2 separate regions of the Homo sapiens genome follow, and region 1 is linked to region 2. Evidence: fine-mapped expression QTL. Tissue or cell type: cerebellar hemisphere. Region 2 holds a variant in brackets; the other region holds the start of a gene. All regions are shown on one strand. Distances are between the middles of the regions.

What was found. PIP is the estimated chance that this variant, and not a neighbour inherited with it, causes the effect.
Region 1: SUPT3H starts here. The variant in region 2 is fine-mapped to the expression of SUPT3H in cerebellar hemisphere (GTEx, PIP 0.97). The same link has a PIP of 0.9 or more in caudate.

Annotation. Positions count from the first base shown.
Region 1 is chr6:45,372,974-45,381,068 of GRCh38, reverse strand. It overlaps SUPT3H (SPT3 homolog, SAGA and STAGA complex component), which reads left to right and starts at 3,135. Exons shown (of 11, transcript NM_003599.4): 1 at 3,135-3,301. The region is part of intron 2 of RUNX2 (RUNX family transcription factor 2); the gene reads right to left. RefSeq lists silencers at 2,844-2,893, 3,214-3,493 and an enhancer at 2,660-3,203.
Region 2 is chr6:44,803,218-44,811,326 of GRCh38, reverse strand. All of the region lies in intron 2 of LOC101929770 (a long non-coding RNA gene), which reads right to left. It also overlaps a transcript of SUPT3H not described here. Among named protein-coding and RNA genes, the nearest start is that of MIR4642, 370 kb to the right of the region's middle. The variant G/A (reference allele first, on the strand shown) is at 4,467.

The DNA of each region.
Region 1 (8,095 bases), 570 kb before region 2:
TTTATTTCCATGGTGACAACTTAAGCATTAAAAATAGAAGGCAAATATAGCAAAGGATGAAATAATTGATAAATAGAAAATAAAAAGTCCCCACAAACATCCTAGCAAGTAAGAGTTATGAATCTCAAACAACAAAGAATTTCCAAGTCACCTGAACTGTCACTGTAGCATCCACATGAGAAGAAACCACTTCTGGCCGGGTGCGGTGGCTGACACCTGTAATCCCAGCACTTTGGGAGGCCGAGGCAGGCAGATCACAAGGTCAGGAGTTTGAGACCAGCCTGACCAACATGGTGAAACCCCGTCTCTATTAAAAATACAAAAATTACCCGGGCGTGGTGGCACACGCCTGTAATCCCAGCTACTCAGGAGGCTGAGGCAGAAGAATCGCTTGAATTGGGGAAGAGGAAGTTGCAGTGAGCCGAGATCGGGCCACTGCACTCCAGCCTGGGTGACAGAGCGAGACTCTGTCTCAAAAAATAATAATAAAAAGAAACCACTTCCATGGAATCAGAGAGATGGTTCCATATTAGCCATGACTTCTGCTGCTCTTTTGAGAATGTGGGCTTACTACCTAATCATTTTAAGATGCCCATGGGCACTTTTACTTAGATACATGCACTTTCTCTTTGCACTAGTGAGTCTACGTGAATATTACATGCCAGAGGAACGTTAAAGTCTACGCTAACAATGCTTCATTTTTCTTTAACAATTTTGTCCAGGTCATGGAGACATTTTTGTGGAGTGATAAATTAACTTGGTCTCCTGATGTGTTTTCCCCACATGCCTTGGAAAATCACTTGTTTTTCTGAGAGGTGGTAGTCATCAAAGCCTTAACTTCAGCAACAGCTTCGCTGTTTTAGCTTTGTTATAATTAAGATACCCTAGTACCATTGATAGTTTAGGATATTTGATATGAATGTAATGCAAAAATATTTTTGGCCCTTTGTATATAGCAATGGTCTCAAACTATGAGCAAAATTATGGCTAAATCAGATTTTCAAAAATGGATTTTAAGAAATTCCAGGAGGTAGGAACCTGGTTAACTCATGTGACTTTAAAAATCAGATCTCTGCCAACAGCCCAATTCAGTTTCCTAAGAATAAATTTTTAAACTTCCTGTATCAATGCCTTAACTCAGTTTCCCTTCTCCATGTGTCACTCTCATTAACTTTTGTTGTGCGTGATTTTTTTTTTTCTTTTTTTGACGGAGTCTAGTTCTGTTGCCAGGCTGGAGAGCAGCGGCGTGATCTCGGCTCCCTGCAACCTCCGCCTCCCAGGTTCAAGCGATTCTCCTGCCTCAGCCTCCCGAGTAGCTGGGACTACAGGCACGTGCCACCACGCCCGGATACTTTTTTGTATTTTTAGTAGAGACGGGGTTTCATCATGTTGGCCAGGATGGTTTCGATCTCCTGACCTTGTGATCTGCCCGTCTCGGCCTCCCAAAGTGCTGGGATTACAGGCGTGAGCCACCGCGCCTGGCCTGTGTGTGATTTTATGCAGGCTGGACACCAGTATCCTAGAATAAGATGATCTGGATTCTATCCTGATAAACTGGATCAAACAGGTACTCATCTGATGCAGGTGAAACTCCAGTGCAGGAACTTCTATGATAACATTAACTGAACATAATTTTAATTGAAATGATCTACTTTTATGTTTCTTTAGATGTGAACATTAATTTTTCTCTTAATCTTCTGTTAACTAATTTCTTGGTAATGTACTCAAAAGAGCTTTCAACCAGTCTTCCCATGTAAGAAGTTATCACCATACTCACTCTGTTACTTTCCCTTATACTGCACACTTTGCTCAGCAATGAATTGATCCCTGATTTACACATCAAGCTGAGCTCTCACATCCTAAATATATCTATTCTTTTGGAATTTTAGGTATTTGGCAAATATTGAAGCGTTGGGGAGATTAAAGAGAATCAAACACAACACTAGCAGACTCAACTACAATCCACAGAGGAAATAACCAAATAAGTTGCTATTTTAAACAATTTAAGCAAATAGAAGGAAGGGATTTCAGAACTCACAGTATCTATAGGCAAGAAAATAACTGAAGCAGTGATGCTTAAAAAGACTTGGTGAGGGTTAATACTTGAATCCCTATAAAATACAGTATTTTATAGTATTTGACAACACAGGTGTGAAGGTGAGCATGGATAACCAGTTTTCTTCTCTAAGCAGGCAATAAGAATGTTAAATATAAATAAGACTTCATATAATATAAAGAGTGAAAGACTGAAAGCATTGTCTTACGACTACTGTATTATTTAAAGAACTACATCTATATCAATTAAATGTGGCAGGACAGAATGTACAGTACAATACTGGGGGTGCAAGATTTTAAAATGAGGAACAGGCCAAAATCTAAACACAGAATCGTCCAAAAAAAAAAAAAAGCCTTCAAGTAGAAAAAGTTTTCAATAACAAAACATGGTAGTTAAACGCCTGCGTCTAGTAACATGAGTTGGGGAAAAAACATTAATAGCAGATTAATGAAACAGATTCTGTGCGAGGTCAGGGTAGGGAGTGATGGCGCGCGGAAGCGGCGTAAGAGCTGGTTTCGCCGTCCCAGAAAGGGTTCCACATCCACACGCCTGTACTGCGGCCCTGCGGGGAGCGTTCAGACCCCTCCGTTTCCCTTCACCATTGTAAACGCGCAATCCCATTAAGATCCCGTTCACTCCAATTCCTGGAAAGAAGCTTAGAACGGTGAATCTCTTCCTCGGAGTTGAAAATCAACTTCCAGTGCCGGTCACCCAATCCTTCAAAAATCCTAGCCCTCTCGGGCCCAATTCCTAAAGAATTCAAGCCTGCACCCTGTACACCCTGACCGATCTCAGCTCGTCCCCACTCCGCTCCCAGCGTCCCCAGCTCTAAACGCCGCCGCGTGGCTCAGCGCTGCCCAAGCCGGGCCCTGAAGGCCGCGCACAACGCCCCGCCCCCGGCGAGCGTGGCGGAAGTAGCTCGCTCGGGCTGGGAGAGCGCGCGCCACCTGGCCAAGCGCGCATGCGCCCGCACTGCCAGTGCGGGGGGCGTCCGTATCGCTTACTCCTCAGTCTCCGCAACCCCCGCCCCACCGAGAGTCGGGCTCACGCCATCTTGTACCCCCCCCATCGCCCCGTCACACAGCCGAGTCACCTTTTCCCTTTCTACACTCCACACTCTCAGTCCCCCACCCCGCCCCTTTCCAAGCGTGTCCCGGGCCGCAGCAGCAGAAACCGCACCATCTCCACCCCCACATTCTCCTCGCGGGAAGCGCAGCAGTGCCTCCAAGGGTTCTTAAAGCAGAGGTTGTAGGGCTTGCGGGGGGCGGTGCGGGGATTCGGGCGGGGGAGACGTCAGAGAGCCGGGAGGGACGCAGAGCGGAGATCCCAGCGTCGCTGGGCCCCCGCGCCGGCCACGCCCTGGCCCCGGCTCGAGGGCGGCTGCCTGGGTCTTCGTGGTCTACGCCGGAGTGTTGAAGGGAGGGCGGCTGTGGGAGGCGCTGGCCGGGCGCAGCGCCCTGGTTCCGCTGCCGAGCGTGGAGTTGCCTCTCGACTCCTCCCTTTTGGCGGGTGGGCGTGGGGTGAGGGGGGCTGGGCTGTGCTGAGAAGCGGGGTGCGCGGGTCGTCTAGGTAGTGTGGGGGCTGCCGGAGGAATCATTAAAGAGGGAAATTGTTGCTTTATGGCACGGCGAGAGAAGAGTTAGGTAGTTAGTGGGAGTGTAGCATCCAGAAAGAGGAAAAGATCCGCTGTGTTCTCTGTGGGGTGAGCTCACGTCTGTGACCCCTGGGGAAATTATTTAGCTTGTCTTTGCCTTGTTTTGGTCTGTAAAATGGCGATCTTATAGCCTATTTCAGAATTGTGAGGATTATATGAGAAAATACACGTTAAACGCTTAGAACAGCGCCAGGTGCTGCTCAGTACATATTAGCTCTGCTTTTGCTCTCCACGTTTTAGGAGTTCAGAATGACTGTGACCTTATTTTCTCAGAGAATCAGGACACTTGGTCTCACACGTGAGAGTGAAGTTATGAAGACAGTGATATGTAATATTTGACACTCAGACGATCCTGGACGTAGTATTACTGTACACGTGGATAAATTAGCATTTCTCCAAGAGGCTAATAGAAATGTTAAGTTATTTCGGTAGAAAGAAATGTGTGTGTATATATATGTATATACATATGTGTGTATATAAGTATATGTATGTGTATATATGTATGTATGTATTTGGAAGGAGAGGACCTGGGGTCTTAGTATATGTGAAGGGCAGACTCTGGAAGAGGAATTAAATTCGCCCTGCAAAGATTTACTTGAAGGACAAAACTTGGGGAATTTCTGGTGAATGTTTCAAAGAGGCTGAATTTGCCTATGAGAAACAGTTCGTGAGAGTACTTTGCAAGAATGGAATGCTCTTCATTGTGCTATGGAAAGTTTCTTATCTCAGGATATTCGGGACGTTGGAGCGAAGTATGCCTAAGTCTAGGGCTGCACTTTTCACTAGCAGTTTCTGCCTTGATGGAGATGTTCCATAATCTGTGCCTTTAGGCACTAGTGGTAGCCTAGGCACAGTGGCTCTTCAGCACTTGAAATGTGATAAGTGTCACTGAGGAACTTAATTTTTAATTTTATTCATAAATTAATAAATTGATTTACGTTTAAATACCCACATGTGGCTAGTGGTAGCTACTGCATTGGACAGCACAGGGCTACAATTTAGATTTTGAGAGTCCTTCCGAGTCTTGATATGGTTGAGTTTTAAATCAGATAAGCCAGCTCTTTGGAACATTTATTGCCATAGGGAATTGTAATTATATTCAAATAATGCCTTTCATTCAAATACTGCAGTTCAGACCATGGGTCTGTTAGTACTTATTTACATCTTGACAAATTAAAGCAAAACGTTGTCTCCTAGGTTGTACAGCTAATGCCAGATTCAGAGAGCTATGACAGTATTAACTGGAGTTTTCTTTAAACATTATTGTACTATTTTGTGATTGTCGGTTTCTGCTATCTTTTACCACTTTGGTTGGTTTTTCAGTGAGAAGTTTCCAGCTCTTATTCAAGTTTTTTTCTTTTTTAACCTTTTGTGTAATAAAGCGATTTGAAAAATTGTAACTCTTGAGCATTAGGACATTTTAGAACTAGTTTTATGGTTATCCAAATCTTTTGGAGAGATAAGTGAAATTAGGTAATAGATGTTTCACAAAATTACTTTACTTGAAATATGTGCATCTGTTTTTTTTTTTTAAAGCAAGTGTATATAAAGTCAAATTTGAAAATAAAACTAAAAGAACAAATAAAAAACCTTTATAGGTAGCGGTAGCACCCTTAACCTTGGCCTGATGTCTGTAAAATGGTGCCCTTGGGCCAGGCACGTTGGCTCATGCTTGTAATCCCAGCACTTTGGGAGGCTGAGGCCAGAGGATCTCTTGAACCTAGGAGTTCAAGGCTGCAGTGAATCATGGTCAGGCCAGGCTTCCAGCCTGGGCTGCAGAGGGAGACCTTGTCTCTTTAAAAAAAAAAATGATGCTCTTGGTCTTAAGGCTGAAGATAATTGTTAGATCTGGAGCAATAACTTAAAGCTCACGAGTTAAATCAGATGGAGAGAATAGCTCATAATATACAAATCAGAATGGGGTGCTTTTATGGGTGACTATAGTATCTTAATTTTTCTGAGACAGTCGTAGTATAAAGCCTGATTGTTCCAGCACAATTATTTTATTTAATAGAACCCCTTTCACTATCAAAATGTTCGAATTGGGACCACATCATAATGTCACCCTACTGTTAGCCTTGTTGGGACTTGTAATATATAGTTTTAGGATGATTAACCACATTGCAATATCAGAAATACTTTATTATTTTTGAGATGGAGTTTCACTCTTGTTGCCCAGATTGGAGTACAATGGTGCGATCTCAGCTCACTGCAACCTCCCCCTCCTGGGTTCAAGCGATTCTCCTGCCTCAGCCTCCCGAGTAGCTGGGATTACAGGCACATGCCAGCATGCCTGGCTAATTTTTGTATTTTTTGTAGAGACAGAGTTTCACTATGTTGGCCAGGCTGGTTTTGAACTCTTGATCTCAAGTGCTCCACCCGCCTCAGCCTCCCAAAGTTCTGGGATTACAGGTGTGAGCCACCGTGCCCGGCCAGAAATATACTTTAAAACAGTGACAAAATTACTGTTTTTGTGTCTAAATAATAAATAAGATACCTGGAATAAGGCCAGCAAGTGACTTTCCCATTTAAGCCACTGATAATTTTAAAATTTTGCTTTGAATATAAACCTTTAGCAGCTTGAGTTTTGGTTCCCTCTGGAAGAAAATCATCTTTTGGTGGGGGTGACTGCATGGTAGTCTATGTCAGTCAAATCAGGTGATTGAGTATTTGTGTTGAAATAACACTGATTTTATTTTATGGTGAGGTTGAATAGTGAAATCCGTCAGAAATCTGATTATGTATTAGAATGTTAAAGAAGGGTTTTGCTTACAGTTTACTTAATGAAAAATAATTCAGCCATATGCATTATTATATTAAGTTTATACTGAAGTGGGTAAAATATTTTATTGAGGCTCTAACACTTGATTTGAGTTCTCGCTCTGCTGCTTCCTAACCATGTGATTTGGGACAAATTATTTAATCTTCCTAAGAATACTGGGTTCCTCATTTATAAAATGAAGATGGTAATGGCATCTGCTTCTAGGTTCATAAGAGGTTAATTTAAATAACTCATGTGATGGGTTGTGTGCAGTTCAGTAACTGTTAGCTGCTGTAGCCTTAAGTTTATTGGATAATCTAGAAGTGATAATAATGTTCTGAGATGTTATGTGGGTTGGTGAACAGAGCACTAAGACCCAATTCTGTAAACCTAGCTTTTGCCCTTTTCTGGCACATTCTTTTGTCATTTCAGTTAAGGTATTTAACTTATTAATATCAGAGCCTCAATTTCCTTATCAGTAAAATGGAATTAGTACCCATCCTCATCCCGCTTTCTCATAGGACTGTTGGTGGCATCAAATGAGAATTACATTTAAAAATTATCGTCTTACTTTACAAACATTTTTATATTGAATTGGTTTTGTCTCATCTTGTCTACCTTCAGCCTCCACTAAAGAGTGACCTGCAAAAATTGTTGTGTAAATTTTGTGTAACAGCATGGATAGTGTATAATAGGCACTATTACTGAAGACAGTTCTCTTTTACAAATAATATTGTAAGTCACAGGCTGGGTGTGGTGGCTCACACCTGTAATCCCAGCACTTTGGGAGGCTGAGATGGGTGGATCACTTGATGTCAGGAGTTGGAGACCAGACTGGCCAACATGGCGAAACCCCGTCTCTACTAAAATTACAAAAAAATTAGCCGGGCATGGTGGTGCATGCCTGTAGTCCCAGGTACTCAGGAGGCTGAGGCAGGAGAATCGCTTGAACCCGGGAGGCGGAGGTTGCAGTGAGCCGAGATCGTGCACTGCACTCCAGCCTGGGCGACAGAGCAATACTCTGTCTCAAAAACCACACACACACACACACAAATAATATTTTAAGTCACAGTAATGGTGCTTTTTTGATCTGGTCACAATATATTTTCTACGGAAAACAACCCCATACTACTGCTAAGGGAGAACCAACATTTTCTTGGGCACTTGATGTGTTCCTTCCGTTGTATCTCATTTATCCAAACATATTCCCACCTAATAGGTTATACTAATGAGGCTCTTACTTTCTAGAATTGGTCTGTGAGGCTTTTTTGTACTGTAGTTCTCCCTCTGAAAATACCTGGCCCATAGTTAATGGGTAGTGAAGGTTAAATAAGATAATGAACATGAAAATCGTGGCCGGCTCTGTGACTTCATGCCTGTAATACCAGCACTTTGGGAGGCCAAGACAGGCCCGGGTTGCTTGAGCCTAAGAGTGATGGGCAATATAGTGAGACCTGGTCTCTAGAAAAAATTTAAAACAAAAATTAGCTGGGCCGGGTGCGGTGACTCACAACTGTAATCCCAGCACTTTGGGAGGCCGAGGCAGGTGGATCGCCTGAGGTCAGGAGTTTGAGACCAGCCTGGCCAACATGGTGAAACTCTGTCTACTAAAAATACAAAAATT
Region 2 (8,109 bases):
AATACCTTTGTGGTCATCTTCCCAATAACCCATAACCCCTTCTAATCTTGAGCATCATACAAATGTCACTTGAGAGGCATTACAGAATACCTGACCACACTCCTCAAAACTGTCAAGGAAAGCCTGAGAAACTATCATAGCCAAGAGGAGCCTAAGGAGACATGACATAAATGTAATGTGGCATCCTGGATGCAATTCTGGAGCAGAAACGGGACAATGGATAAAAACTAAGGAAATCCGAATCAAGTATGGGCTTTAGGAAATAACATACCAATATTTGTTCATTAATTGTGACAAATGTATCATAATGTAAATTACTAATAATAGAGGAAAGTAGGTGTTGGGTATATGGGAACTTTGTGCTGTCTTCACAATTCAGTAAATGTAAAACTGTTCTAATATAAATTTTTTTTTTTTTTGAGATGGAGTCTCTCGCTCTGTCATCCAGGCTGGAGTGCAGTGGCACGATCTCAGCTCACTGCAGCCTCCGCCTCCCAGGTTCAAGTGATTCTCTTGCCTCAGCCTCCCAAGTAGCTGGGACTACAGGCATGTGCCACCAGGCCTGGCTAATTTTTGTATTTTTAATGGAGACGGAGTTTCACCATGTTGGCCAGGATGGTCTCAATCTCCTGACCTCGTGATCCACCTGCCTCAGCCTCCCAAAGTGCTGGGATTACAGGCGTGAGCCACCATGCCCCGCCAAAAGTGCATTTTTTTTTTTTTTTAGTAAAAGGCTATTAAGTCCTATATGACACATCCATTTTGGGGTGATATTTTTTCCTCTTTTCTCTGAGTCACACTCCCTCTTTAATATCCTGTAACTTAAATACTGAGCTATATGGCTAGCCACTATTAACACATCTTCTATTAAAGATAGGGAATGGAAGTGGGGGAGTAAAGAAAATTAATACCAAAAAAATGCTGTATTCATATTAAAGTAAGAAAGAAATACTTACAACCACTACTGTCATCATTTCTGTAACTGGTCCAATGGTCCTTGCTAGTATTTATAACTTCCGTCTTCTGTTAGCCAGTCCATATCGCCTTTGCCCTTAGTAAACAACTCAGCTGATGTGCTTCCTTGCCTCATGGGGTGATCCTGCCTATTTCTGTTTCAGTTATCTTTTGCTGTGTAACAAACCCACCCCAAACGTTAGTGGCTTTAAGGCAACATTATTTTTTTTATTTCTCATGATTCTGGAGTCAGGCATTTAGATGGTATTTAGCTCTTGTCCAGAGCTGCTGAAGGACAGAAGTATACTCGGTTTGGACCCACAGGCCCAGTCTTGGCTTCTGGAAAAAACTACACCAACAATACATTTGGCCCCTTCACCACAAGGTTTGTTTCCTCCGTGGATCTGGCACTAAGAAATTATATCTATTCGTAACTCTTGCCTGATGAGTAACTTGGATCCTAAATTCTCCCTGCCCTTAATGGCTGTGTGGTGTTTGAGAAATTGCTTTAACTTTGGGGTCTTGGATTCCTCATCTATTAAGTGGGAGCATTGAAGTTCTACTAGATGACTTTAAGACATATTTTTTACTCCTGAAATCTGTTATTTAAGAGGGGCATTTATGGAGTGTGGATTATGGAAAAACCAGCATAAGTGGGAGTCAAAACTTTAAGAATTTATTTCAGCCTAAAATGCCTATTTTTGAAGGGAACCTAATCAAAACTTTTTAAAAATAGTTTTTAATTATAGGTTTGAAACTTTGTGTTATTTGTAATGCCTTTTTAGAAGCCTGAAAATAACATTTCTCTCTGTACCAACTTTGTGCTTTTCCATTTGGTAAACACTGATTTTATTTCTCTCTGTCCCTGTAGGAGTAAACCAAGCCAATTCAGCACTTCCTGTTTACTTCCTTGTCATATGTACCATAGATGGTGACAGACCTGCTCTCAAAACAAGCTTCCTTCGTTTAATTCTGCATTTTCTGCTTAGGCAACCACCCTATCAATATACTTGAACAATGAAACAATTTGGCTACGGAAGCACTGTCTCTGAATTCCTCCTTCAACTTGTCAGTGGAAAGGAAAGTCCCTTGGTGGAATGGTAGGAATAGTTTTAAGCGGGGTATCACACAGTGCCTTACAGTGGAGAATATCAAAGCGTTTTCAGCTCTTCAATCTTCGTATGCATGACATGGGTGAACACAAGACTAATAAACAACTTGATTTCCTTAGGAGATTCTCAGTGCTCTATCTGTTTTTTAAGTAAGAAGATTGAGTTTCATGTATATTGAGTGACTAAAGTGTAAGCTTAGAAATATTTTATGTCTCCATCATAGTTTATTCTGTTCAGCATAAATCATCAGAGCCAACCATAACTTAACCATTTACTAGAGCTTTTTCAGAGTCAGTTGTATTACAAGCATGTCAGACACACCTTCCTACAAGTCCCTCAAGGTCAATAGTTGAGAAATTCTGCGTTTTCCTTCCCTTCCCCACTCAACACTTATGGAAATATATGCTAATTGGAACAGAAGCTGCCTACCAAACTAACAGGGTTAGACCACTCTTAACACAAGATTAATGAGAAAGAAGTTTAAGGAAAAAATAACATTTCTCAAGCAGTAAGAAAGTACATGCCAAGTAAAAGCCAACAGTCTGCATCAGTCGGATACCAAACTCTGCTTTCCCTTGACTTTACTTAAAGGAGTTAAAGACAGGGAATCCTGTATGTCCAGCCTTGCTCCAGTCACTGTTGCCAGCCCTTTGGCTCAGTGTGGCTGGCTTCTCACCTTCCTTGGGGCCTCAGCTCAGCAGCCACCATTGTAGAAAACAAGACCACAGACTCAAGGGTTAGAATGAGACTCTATACATTGTTTACTAAGGTGACATGCCAGAAGGAATGATGAGGCACAGACATACTGCATGTGGCCCGCTGCATTCATGACAGGCCTTTGTAGGTGTGTGATTTATATTCATAAAGGGGGGTTCGGAGACAATGGATGTTTAAAGTCACTGATATTGGCAAGAAATTAAGTTTGTGAATCACTCTGCGCCGTTGATGAATGACTGAACTGTGAGTTAGCAGACATCAAGAGCTGTCAGTTAGGAGTGATACTAATGTTCTTTTGAAATAGGTTTAGACAACAGTATTTGCTTAGAAGGAGAAAAGCCTAAAGATCTTATCAATTTGCAGAAACTGTAATTGGCATACTACGTGACATATTTACATTATTTGGCAAGGGCCGGTGAGGGCGGGGGGTGATTTCTCTTAGAATTCCAACCCTTTCAGGATCCAAAGGCAGCCTTCACCTGTGGCACATGCTTAGCTCTTTATAAGCACCCTAAATTTTTCCAAATAAATTTTACACATTTAAAAAGTGATGATCTTTCACACCTAGTGCCCAGATCTTAGTTTCTAAATATCATTCCCCACTGGTATTCAGGGTTCCTTGGAGAAATGCCTGATCCCAGAACCAGGGCAGGGAAAGATGCCTGGAAAAATGAGCCTTGAATATTTTATTGCATAAGAAAATAAGGAACTGGTCAAAGAACCATGGGGAGAGGTCAAAAATGGAGCTGGAAGAGGCTCTTACTGGCCAAATCTGGGACAATTTGAGCATCAAAATAAATGATAGTACTAGTTTGTCACCCATCGAATAAATATTCATGAGTCCATGCAGTATAAATAAGTAAACAGAGGAGAAAGTGAAAAGTCTTCTTTGCAGAAGAATGCCAACTAATAAATAAGAAGGAATAGTAGCATTAAAAGATCATCCATGGTAGAGGAAGACTGATAAGAAGTGGTTTATGTAGTCTCAGATTGTCTCCCCACAAATTACTGATTAATTAAAAAGGAAAAAATAGTAAAAAAGAAATCAGATGTTCTTTAAATTATTTATTGTAAGTACTGTTAATTAAAATGTTATGTTTGTGTTCAAAAATAGATAAGTACTCTTGCTTAAATTTTGTGTTTCTGCAGGCCATGCCACTAAATAAGAAATGCAAACAGGGAGAAATTCATTTATAATAGTTGAAAGAGTATCTCCAATGATGGCAAATCCTTTGATAAAATATATTTTGGTCAAATGCCTAAGACAGCTCCTTTTGTTCAGCCTCAATCTGGAAATTGTTCTTCCCTCCAAAAGCCAGAACAGGCTGACACTGTAGCACATCAGAGGCATATGGGAGCTCTCTGCTCCAAGCACTGCAATTTAAGGGAGATGGGGAGCTACAACATCATGTGGGCAAAGAGGTGGCCATTCTAGGATGGCACTGGAACTCCGTCTGTCCCTTGCCTAGTGAGGACCCTGGCCTTTATTTCCCCCTTTTGTTGTCTATATAAAACCAGAAACACTGTTTTCAGTTCCTGTGATGGTTAGGTATCTGAAGCAGGCAGGACACCAACGTCCAGACAGGGCAGACTGGGTAAACAGGACTCACAGATAATGCTGGCTCAGCTGGGCGCCCAGCCACCTGGTTATGTGATGAACTGCACTAGCATTCCAGGGAGACC[G/A]GGCAGGCACCTCGAAGACTACATTCAGACGCTAAAGTGCACACCCACAAAACAGCCATCTCAGACTTCTAATCTTACTTTATGACCAAACTGTAATTACATTACACCAATTACTTGAATATTACATTTTTATTACTGTTATGTCATTATGTCTACTAGGAAAAAAATATGCCTACTTTAACCAATAAAATTCTTAATGACTCATGTAAGCTGTGTCTACATGAAACCCCTGACTTAAACATTTTGGTCAAAATAATTTTTAGAGCCTGGGAGAAAAAGAGAGTTAATCTCCATCTATGTGATTACCCCCAAAGCAAGAAAACTTCCATTTGTAGATGTACGGCTAGAAGTTAAAAAAGTTCCAGCCAAAGCTAATCAGAAAGTTACGATGACTATATTTAAGAGCTATATTTATACAGCCATCAATTCTGTATCGTCTGTTGATCAGTTACAACTATTAATAAAAAAGGAGAGCTGGGAACTCAGGAAACATCCATGTAGCCATCCTCCAAATGCATGGAGGCACGTTTACATTTCCAAAATGTCAAGTAGGCCCAGCTGTAAAAAGATTCTTTAAAGGCCATCTAGGCCAGTTTTTTTGGGAGCCAGTGATTTAATTGGGACTCACTAGGGACAGTCCCCCAAATAAAGTTATTAATGTGTAGAACTTCTGTTTTAAAATCATTATAATTACATTTTACTTCATTTACCTCTTTTAAGGTAGCATCTCATTTTCTGTAGGCCAGTGACCTGTAGAGCTTATCTCACTGAGAAATTCCAGGCAGTCAGACTCGGTGCATTTTCTCAGCAGAGGGACCTCTGACCTTAACCACCTCTCAGCTCGCCCCAAACCTATGTGTCCCTTTCCCAAGCCATGCAGACTCAGACAAGCATAGGACGCTACCTGTCTCCAAAATAATTCTCTACTTCGGGAGCCAGAATTCAGACCCTTGAATTTTGAGAATTTACCATATGCACTTAAGTGAGTCAGAATATCCAAATTTAATCACTGTTGAAAACTTTTTTCACAAACATTTTACATATGCCTTTTCCTCCCAATTTTTTATGCATTAAACACTTTCCTACAAGAAGATGAAGTGGGAACAGGTTTTTCTTCCCCAGGCTTGGTATTTGCTTTATTTAAAAAAAAAAATCCTTTTGACAATATATGTACTCTGTATTACTGTGTAAAATCTCATGCCTAATTCTTAAGTTATGTGCATCTGCTGGACATAAACACTGTTAAACATTCATGACTGCCTACAAATGTGAAAAGTATTACCAGGTCTATTTTTAACATTATTTTGGCAAGACTGTTGCTGTGGAAAAAAAAAATCCTATAGAATCTTAATGAGAAAACTGAATGATTCTTTGAAATGTGGTTGTGATTCCCTAACTTATTAAGTGATGATGTCACTGATGCCGAGAAGCAAGAAACAGTGGACTCACTCACTTGCCAGCATGCTCTGGAGATACACCAGAAGGGAAATAAAACTCATCTTGAGTACGGTTTGCGCTGAGCTGCACCTTCCCCCACAGCTCGGAAGGTCACACGTGTCCCTGCACAGGACGTGTCTCACACACTTGGTCTGTCATTTCTGTGAACCTACGTCATAGAGGGTGCACTGATTGCTTTTGTTTTTATGGAACTTGATCTGTTTGCTGGCCTTTTTTCTGTTTATTACCCACATTTGTCTTACAGAAAAGAACCACCTTGTTTCACCTGTTGGAGAAAGACGGGGGTGTCCTCCAGCTCACCTGAGTCCCCTCAGTCACTTAATCAGCAAGTGGCAAGAAGTTCAAAGAAGTCTGTCAGGACAGGAGCACAGGTCTAATGAAGGAGGTTGTTCCTCATGCCTTCTTACTCCTCAACTCCCTTCAGACTTCCTGGCCACTCGACTTGAATCCCACTTGTCCTAAGTGGGCACAGGCCCTGTAAGAGCAAGGTGTGAGGCTGTTTGGTTCTAGGCAGCAGCAAACAGGACCTGGCAGAGTTTTACAGACTGTGCCCTACACAAAGAAACCAGGCCAGGAAGGCATTGATGGAGACTAACTTTCATTTTGGCCTTCACTTGCCAAGCCTTGCATCCTGGCACAGGAGTTGTGTCAGCCAGGAGCAAGGTCCACTCAGAGGGAGCGTTGTTTTATCATTCCCCTACCTAGAGGAGGCACTTTTTCGTAATTCTTCTGCCTCATGAGGATCCATTTGGCTTGTTTGTACAAAGTCACTGTGTGTGCTTGCAGAAGCCCTGGGGCTGGCCCTGGAGGAATCAGGACTTGCCATACTGAAGGGGCAGATTCTGCACCTTAAATGCTGGCTGGGTCAGCAGTGAATATAAATGAGGTCATTGCTTCTATGGAAAAAGTGCTACAGAATAAGGTCTTTCATCCTAGACAGCAAGTCTGGAACCTTTCAGAGTTCCAGAATCAGCCACAGCTGATTGAAAATTGAGGAACGATTTTCAGCCAGAAACCTGCAGAACCCGTATCTAGAGAGAGAGCTATGTGTTCCATCCAAAGTAGGGGCTGGTTTAGTTCTGCACTGGAGGAAATGCAGCCTGAGGGTGGCCTAGCTGGTCTTAAATCTGCATAAAATCATGGAATCACTGAAGTTTAGAGCAGAAAGAAGTCTTGGGTCCTCTAAGATCCATTCACAACTTTCCGAGATGAGCACAGGAACATGAAGTGCTGGTCCCCACCACCCTCAAAGGTGGTATCTTCTCAGCCAAGGGAGCCTGCCGCTCCCTCCACATCCATTCTTCTCCCATCCTGATGGCTCTAGATATTTTGTGGCGAGTATTCTGATTTCTGGGCATGGACCCACTGGTGCTCCACTTTCTTCCACAAGTTCTTTGTGAAATACCTACCTGCCACTGATCACTCAGTGACGTCTACCATTTGCACAGAATGACCAGTGGCTCAGATGCTCTTCACTGGTCATCCATGATTGCCACAGACTTCCAGAGGAACTCAGGGCCATGAACCTGCAGTCTTAGTCCAGTCCCTGCCCCAGTCCACTGGAATGATGCAAGGACCCATCCTGTCACCCCCTCCACCACTGCCAGGACACTCTTGTTTCCTACCCCTTTATCCTCTGGCTATGATGCAGCTTCACCTTGTTGGGGGAGGTCCCCAGGAGCCAGCCTCCTGACCACTGCCTCTGCAGAGACTCCTGCCATGCCCCACTCAGCAGTGCAGACTTGTGCATGGACACCCCACACCAGAGCTCTGTTTATCACACACTCGGGACAGCAATTTGGACTAGAGCTCGTCCTACACTCCCTTTATCTACCCTAACTCCAGAAGCATACATTTTTTGACTACTTCGTCCCACCCAGCAGCCTCCACTGAAGTCCCAGCATGTCTCAGAGCTGAGGCTATGCTGGAGATGACACATGACATTTCAGTCCATTCTTGGAAGTTTCTTTGTCTTTGCAAGAAGGATGTTAATTTCGCAGGTTAATTTGGTAAACCTGTAAGTCAAGAAGGGGGACTTTGACTTCAAATTATTACATTTACAATGCTGCGTATTATTTTAGCAGGTTCCACAGAGATACTTCACTCATTGTTACAATTGTGTTTTTATAAACTTCAAAGAAACATGGACTTTCCTTTCAGAAACTGCCTCACACAGACTCATATT